Linked DNA regions of Homo sapiens. The protein of the gene in region 1 interacts with the protein of each later gene in a pairwise test. Each region holds a gene or a part of one and is shown on either strand. Other genes may lie near its edges.

Region 1 (3,915 bases):
GCTCAGCGGCTTTTGGGGCAGCCACGTTAGGTGCTGGGGAATGGAAGAGGATGACACTGCCTATTTTGACTCAGATCTTCAAGGATGAGCACACCCTCCCCTGGTAGCAACTTCTGCACCCGCCGGCCACCCCGTAGGGCCCTGCCCCGCACCGCACCCGGTGGCCTCCCCGGAGGGCCGTGACCCAAGCACCGCACCCGGCGGCTTCCCCAGGTGCTGCTCCGCCCAGTGCCCCCCCAGATCTCAACGTGGTGCCACAATGCCGCCCTCTCGCACATCGTGTCCTTGGACTATGTCTTCCTTTGAAAGGTCAGTTGCCAGGGGCCCTCACGACTCCTTGGGTGTGCTTTGGGCCGGCATGTATGTCCTCTTGCCCTTCTCTTACACAGAAGAGTGGGGAGGGTGTCCTAAGAATTTGGCTTGTCCTAAGGAAAATAAAGTTGTAATTTCAAGGCACTGACCAAGGTCTCTGTACTACTCAAGAGCTCAAGAGTGGCCACGGGGGAAGATAGCCCTGGGTGTAAAAGGGCCGCAGAAGGGAATCCCCTGTGCTCTGCATTAAAAAACCCCCAGGGGACAGGAGGCTGAAGAAAGGGAACCTACCACTTCTCCATAAAATAGTGTCAGTGAGCTGTCCAGGAGGGCAGGGGATCTGCCGATAAGAGAGCATTTAGGAAAATATGCCGACTCCTTAAATTGGGTTTCGATTTTTCAGCTTTTGAAAATATTGGTTTTCTTTAGGACAGGTTTCTGTACTTGCCAACAGTTGCCAGTTATCCACCAGCAGACTGCAGGAAGAAGAGACAATCTTCACCTCCCTCCTGGGTAGGGAGAGCTGAGAATTCACTAGGCTTAGCCTAACAAAGCCCGCAGTGGACGTTTCTGCTGTACCTGTCCAAGGCGTGATAGTTCCCCAGACTTTGGGGAATATCACCGTGGGTTATTTTGTCTAGTTAAGTCCCTGTGGTGGGATAAGGATGGCTCCTAGAGCATGTCGGCATCAGTAGTTCCTGGAGTGGATTTTCCTACACCGTCTAGGTATGAAAATTTGGTGGGAGAAAAGACCCCAGGAAAGGGGAAAGCAGGAAAGTGGAGCTAAGGGATGCTGCTATAACACTCATCCTGTTGTATCTGTTCTGTTTCCCTGAACTTTGAAGATAGTTATGCTGAGTACCCCCTTTAAAATGATTTTCTTCTACACTGTACCTTCCCATGGTCATGTTCTTGGTGGGGTGTGTTTCACATGTCCAGCCCTGTGGGGTTGGGGGGACACTAGAAGAGGTAGTGGGAAGCCAGACTTTCCCACATCATTCCACCGAGGCCACGGAGGCAGGAGGAACCGAGCCTTCCCTGTGCTCGGCACTGTGTTTTTCTTCATCATGTCACTTTTTACATTAACGTGTATTTTTGCTTGCTTCCAGAAAAGCACCTACATCAGCTATGCTGTAATCCTTGCTTTTCTCACCCAATAACTGGGAATCCCCAGAGAGCCAAAACTATCTTTTTAATCTCTTATTTCTTCATCACCTAGTACCATTTGGTGCTCAATCAACGTTTACTGAGCGGAAGAAAACGGAAATAAGACATTTTCCTCAAGGAGCAGAAATCATTACACGTATTTGGTCCAAACAAATAAAAATAAAGAGAACCAATGAAGACTGAAGTAAACCACATCACGATTACATAAATGTAAAGATCTGGTTGCTTGTGTCCTTTTTATAATACATACTATGATCTTTGCCAATTAACACTGGAGGACTCTTTCTGGTCGATAAAATGTTTGGATAATTAAGTATGCTTTCATTTTATGTCCCGGTATCAAAGATGTCCATTTATTCAAAACAAAGGGAGTGAACATAAAACATAAAAAGAAAAAAAAAAAGGCCTGTGGCTCCTCCTCCCAGACACCCCCCTCCAACAGTGATGAATAGGAGGGACTGTCTCCCTCCCCCATCCCTCGGAGACTAGCCTTGCAGTGTTTTAGACTGTTTTGAAATTCTGTTCTTTAGAAGAGATTTTTTTTTTCTTCTTAATATCAAACAAAGAACTGCTGCTATTCCTTTGGGCTGGCGCAGCAGGGGCCGGTGAAATGCAGGCTGACGACGGCGCGCCAGGGGCTGAGCTCGCCCCGGTCGGCGACGCGCACACACCTTGAGTGACAGCGACCTCTTCTCTACAGGTTTTCCCCGCGGGAGCGTGGCCCTAGCGGGCGTTCGGTTTTCTTTGGAAATCGCGGAGGGGGCTGGCCGGGCGCAGCGATCCCCACCCCGGGACTCCAGCCCCGGCCGTGCGCGTCGCCGCGGACGGGCTCTGCGGGCCACGGGGAAGGTGCGAGGAGGCGCGAGCAGGCTGTGAGCCGCTGGGCGCTCCCGCGAGCCCGCTCCTCTCCGTCGGGAGCAGGGCAAAGGCGCCAGGAACAGGGCAGAGGCACAGCGCCCACCGCCTCTGCGGCCGCCTGATGTGCGAGCAGCCCGCGACGAGGCAGTGCACGCTCAGACGCCCCGCTCCTCCCGCCAGCGCGCGGCCTCGCTCCTCCTAGAGGACGCTCTCTGCGCGGGCCCTCGGAGGAGGCGGCGGCGGGGCGAGCTGCAGCGCCGGGACAGGAGGTTTGTCCCCGCCCGCGCGCCGTACCGCGGCGGAGATGGGCGAGACCATGTCAAAGAGGCTGAAGCTCCACCTGGGAGGGGAGGCAGAAATGGAGGAACGGGCGTTCGTCAACCCCTTCCCGGACTACGAGGCCGCCGCCGGGGCGCTGCTCGCCTCCGGAGCGGCCGAAGAGACAGGCTGTGTTCGTCCCCCGGCGACCACGGATGAGCCCGGCCTCCCTTTTCATCAGGACGGGAAGGTGAGTCGGCGGCCTGGCCGCAGAGGCGCCGGAGGGGGAGCGCGGCGGTGGTAGCGTCCACCTTCCGCCAGGCGTGACGTCACAGGCGCGCGCCGGGCTTGGGAGGGCGCGGGATGATAGCGCCTAGCACCTGTCTCCGGGCCTTCCCGATGAGCCGCGCTTAGGGTCCGTGGGCTTCAGCTGCATGAACCACGTTCCAGCAGTTCGGCCCTCCTGGCCCCAACGCGCCTTTGAAATACGCGGACAGTGCGCTTTCCTTCTTGGCCCGAGCGGCGCTTCGCAATGCGGGCTTGTGCACTCGTGAGGCCCGCGGACACCTCCCGCCCCTGCGCGGCGGAGCGCTCCGCCGGCTACCTGCTCCTCAGAAGTGGCCTGGAGGCTGGATTTCCTTGGCCATATCTGGTCCCTGGGCTCTCGCCGACAAAGAAGCATTGTCCGTACTGTCTGTGTGCCCAGAAATGGGAAGCGGGTGTAAGGGGAGGCCAAACTTGACTTTCTTAGTGTCGCGAGGTGGGTCAGAGCGTTACATTGACATAAAACAGATTAACAACAGAAAAACATACATCTCTTGAATATGTTTTACGTGAAAAAGACACAAAGAAATGGCAAAACCCAAATACTTTTGTGCTAGGCAGAACCAAGAGCGGCAGCTGTGGGAGAGTAAAGTGTGCGGGGAGGCTAATGGAAGATGGAACTGCTTGAACCACGTCTAGGTAGAAATCTCCGCCTTGCTCGGCTCTGGTGCCGAGTGTTTCTTTGTTCCTGGTGTAGGGAGGCCATGTTTTACAGGAGTTTTCTCTTGTTTCATGAAGAAAAGGGGGCAGTTTAGAGCACTCTTCTGTTTTTCAAGTGCTTTTAGCTTAAAATAATCCTTATGCCAGAGACATATTTTTGGGATGGCATACCCTGTCACCCTTCACGGGCTATCTGAACAGAATCTAACGTGGGAGGCAAAAAGTGGGAATAAAACAGAAGATTGAATATCAGCACAACTGTTTTCATGCTTGGTAAAACCGTACCTTTACCAGGTTTTCTTTTTCCACTGAGGTACGTGTTCCAATGGCCACTTC
Region 2 (3,915 bases), on another chromosome or scaffold:
TACATTCTTTGTCATGTGCTACATAGTCAAATCGGTCACCAATTATACAGAAGGTAAACCTCCATATGCTAGCTACAGCATGGATCAGTAAAAAGGTATATGGACAGCAATCTTTACATGGACAGTGACGGACATGGACCTGTTCCAGATCCCATTCTACCACTGACTCTTTACATGACCCTGGACAAGTCTGTGAGCTTCTTGGGAATCCAGGTCCTCTTTGCCCACGCCAAAACCTATGTACAGAAGAGAAAGCTCACAGCCTTTTCAATAGTGATGATTTTTAAAAACAGTAATGAAAAAGGCAATATAAAATCTGGCTGAGAATTTTACTTGTTGATAAAGTATGTCTAGGCTGGGCATGGTGGCTCATGCCTGTAATCCCAGCACTTTGGGAGGCCAAGGTGGGTGGATCATTTGAGGCCAGGAGTTCGAGTCCAGCCTGTCCAACATGGTGAAACCCCATCTCTACTAAAAAATACAAAAATCAGTCGGATGTGGTGGTGTGCACCTGTGGTCTCATCTACTCGGGAGGCTGAGGCATGAGAATCACTCGAACCTGGGAGGCGGAGGTTGCAGTGAGCCGAGAATGCACCATTGCACTCCAGCCTGGGAGACAGAGGAAGACTCTGTCTCAAAAAAAAAAGTATGTCTAGAGGAACAATATCATGTAAATCCAATTATTTGATGTATTACTCATTTGTTTCCTGTGTCAGCATTATTTTGCCATTTCCATCAGCTGTTTTATATTTAGAAAAATATTTATGTTTAGTATTAATTCAAGTAAAATATTATTACCAGTAAGGAATATCTGTGATGATAGACATAAGTGTATTCATGAAAAAAGACTTTTTATTGCTTCCTATTTTGGGTAATCTAAGCCAGTATTTCTTTTTAAAAAAATAGTTAATTTTTTTTTTTTTTTTTTGAGACAGGATCTCACTGTCACCCAGGCTGGAGTGCAACGGTGCAATCCCAGCTCACTGTAGCCTCGACTTCCTGGGCTCATGTGATTCTCCCATTTCAGCCTCCCAAGTAGTTGGAACCACAGGTTGCGCCACCATGCCCTAAGCCAGTATTTCTTTTTTTTTTAAACAGAAAACCTAGGTTATTTGTTAAGCCGTTACAAAAACAAAACAATTACCATTTGAAGTACTTTGAGGACTTTATCCCAGACTCATTTGTTCTGTTACAGAAACTAACCTAAAAGGTTGGAAATTAAAGAATATAACCTAAGAGGTTATAACAGAGCGGGCTGGTAAAACATGGCGAAAGGAGCTCTCTCTTTCCCACCCTGTCTATTTATACCTCCAAGCTCCTGTGCATTCTCACCACATAGGTCTGCTAGCTTACATAAAATGCATACAGTGAAGGCAGGAATTATAGGCCTACTCAGAGGGTACCCAGACACAGAAAGTTTGGGGTAAATAATAAACTACAAATATCCTCTTGGTTAATTCATTTTTGTTAATAAAGGTCATGTATCTATCTTTTGCTGGTAACAACTTGTCTCAATATAGTCTGTCTCAAGAAAGAAGTAGTTCAGGTTGGGTTTTGGAAAAGGAAGAAGACTTTCATCAACTTTGCTTCAGAGTGGAAGAGGCACCAAGTTCTCTCCTACAATTAGGAGCAGAATCTTATACCTGCATAAATCATTTTCAGTGATCAACATCTGCACCCTCAAACTGTCCAGCAACTGTTGGTGTGGATTCTACCTCCATCCCATCTTCAAAATATCTTACCGAATCTTCTGTCCTGACCCCAGCCATATTATACTGGCTGCTCAGACTGAGAAGGCATTCCTTCTAATCTCTCCAATATCTAAGCCAGTATTTCTATCTTCAATGATTAATGGGCTCCCTCTTTGTTACATACTTTCAAACATGGGCATCTCTGGGATGGCCTGGGCTTCAGACTTCTGAAAGCTGTCATCACTAGGTTTCTCCCAGGAACCTTCCTTTGACACTACCACAGCCATGTCGCCTCCTCCTTTGGGTGGAGGAGTCACCAGGGGTGCAGTCGGCTCCATGCTAGAACTGGTGTTTTTCCATAATGCTGGCTCTCCAGCTCCACCTGGCTCTGTCATGTCTTCTCTTCTCACACTGATTGGCTGTTTGCGTGGGACCCTGGTTTCTGCAGAATGAGCAATTCTCTTCCGAAGTTCTTCATCTTCTGAAACTTTCTCCAGTATCAAATGCTGTGGAAAACAAGAGAAAGGATGATATTCTGACCTGGGATAGAGTAAAAGGATCTTCTCATGCTCAGGTATAATTCAAGTCTATTAGCTACTTGCCTTGGCTGCTGCCACTTCCTTCTGTGTTCCTGAGATTTTTATAAGTCTTGATAGTAGTAATGTCCCTTCTGATTCTTTGTCACAGGTAATTTTGGCTCCAGATGCCTTACAGATAGAACGAATTGTCTCGCCGCCTCTCCCTACATTAAACAATATATAAAAACCTGCCCTTCCCTCCTGGCCAACCTTAGCTACTGGAGAAATCACTGTTTTGTATATACTAGGAGAAGAGAATCAGTTCTCATTTCTAAAGTGAACAAAATACAAGATGTTGAATGGAAATCAGGAGCTACTGAAATCATTACTGTGAAAAGGAGAATACCATATTCTTTCCTTTTTCCATTTTATTTAAACTCTACACTTTGGCTAACTTCATGTCATTTTCATTTTGACCACTCAGCATGGCCATATCAGGTCACAAGAAGATATGCTACATAGTGTGTCAGAACACCGGATCAAGGACAGGACATTTCTCTGCCTCTAACAGCAGCACTAAGCAATGCTCTAGGGGAAAGCATAAAAGGTACCCTCTAGAGCACTGTCTTGAAAGACTTGAGATAACATGAGCATCCCAAGCTTCCCTTTAAAAATCAATTATAAGGTAAATATAATACATCTACTAGAACCCTTAAAGAATCAATTTGTAAGGTTCAGATCATACAACTTCTTGAGGAAACAGGTTTGGTTTTACCACCAGTTCTACAAACAGTAAACCTCTGGTCTCAATGTCCCTTTTTTTCCCCTCACATGGTGAAGGGGAACTAGGCCAGAAAAAACCCTGGGAAGGTGTGAAAGAGGGGCAAAGGTAAAGAATAAAGGAAACAATAGAGGAAGCCATCCAGTGGTACCTATGATTCTGCCCACAGATCTCTGGGGAACTGAAAGCTGCTCAGACACTGGGGTATTCTCTGTCAGGATCTGATGGATTGCTGCTTTGGCCTTGCACACCTGAACAGGAAAACCACTGATAAGCAGCACTCGCTCATCGCCTACATCCTCTGTGTCCACATCAATCCGAGCACCTGTCTGTTTCCGCAGCTGCAAAGAAAAGGACATTTGGCAGTACATTCTGGAAGAGCTCCCATTTGAGCCCAGCTACAGACACTCTAAAACAAACCCTGGAGGTAGATAGAATTAGCCAAAGGAATTAGCTAATACTATCTATACAACCAGTCCTCAATTACTTTATATACAACCTCAGTTACTATCTATACAACCAGTCCTCACTTTATGGAAGGAGATTAGTAACAAATGTAACCCCAAATAGCAGTAAATTCAAACCCATTTATCTTTGTGTTTAGAATCCTTTCCCCTTACTAATTTTATTTGGATTAGAGAATCAAATATTTTGTTTTCTTGACATTCCAGCTGAACAATGGAAGATGGTAAGAAGAACCAGGTAGCCATTCAATATTTACTGTCAATTAATGAGAGTTCATTAATTCCATAGTAGAAAAGGATAATTTGACCAGGCGCGGTGGCTCACGCCTCTAATCCCAGCACTTTGGGAAGCCAAGGCGGCTGGATCACGAGGTCAGGAGATCGAGACCATCCTGGCTAACATGGTGAAACCCTGTCTCTACAAAAAATACAAAAAATTAGCTGGGAGTGGTGGCGGGCAC

What was found.
Region 2: the proteins of LANCL2 (region 1) and TDRKH interact in binary tests that used the Homo sapiens proteins (3 or more experiments, as listed by UniProt).

The regions. Positions count from the first base shown.
Region 1 is NC_000007.14:55,363,385-55,367,299, forward strand, and holds the start of LANCL2 (lanC-like protein 2), read left to right. Parts: upstream 1-1,952; 5' UTR 1,953-2,641; coding exon 2,642-2,845; intron 2,846-2,970; exon of another isoform or gene 2,971-3,355; intron 3,356-3,915. UniProt on the Homo sapiens protein: Necessary for abscisic acid (ABA) binding on the cell membrane and activation of the ABA signaling pathway in granulocytes.
Region 2 is NC_000001.11:151,776,810-151,780,724, forward strand, and holds part of TDRKH (tudor and KH domain-containing protein), read right to left. Parts: intron 3,332-3,915; coding exon 3,142-3,331; intron 2,434-3,141; coding exon 2,294-2,433; intron 2,198-2,293; coding exon 1,876-2,197; intron 1-1,875. UniProt on the Homo sapiens protein: Participates in the primary piRNA biogenesis pathway and is required during spermatogenesis to repress transposable elements and prevent their mobilization, which is essential for the germline integrity.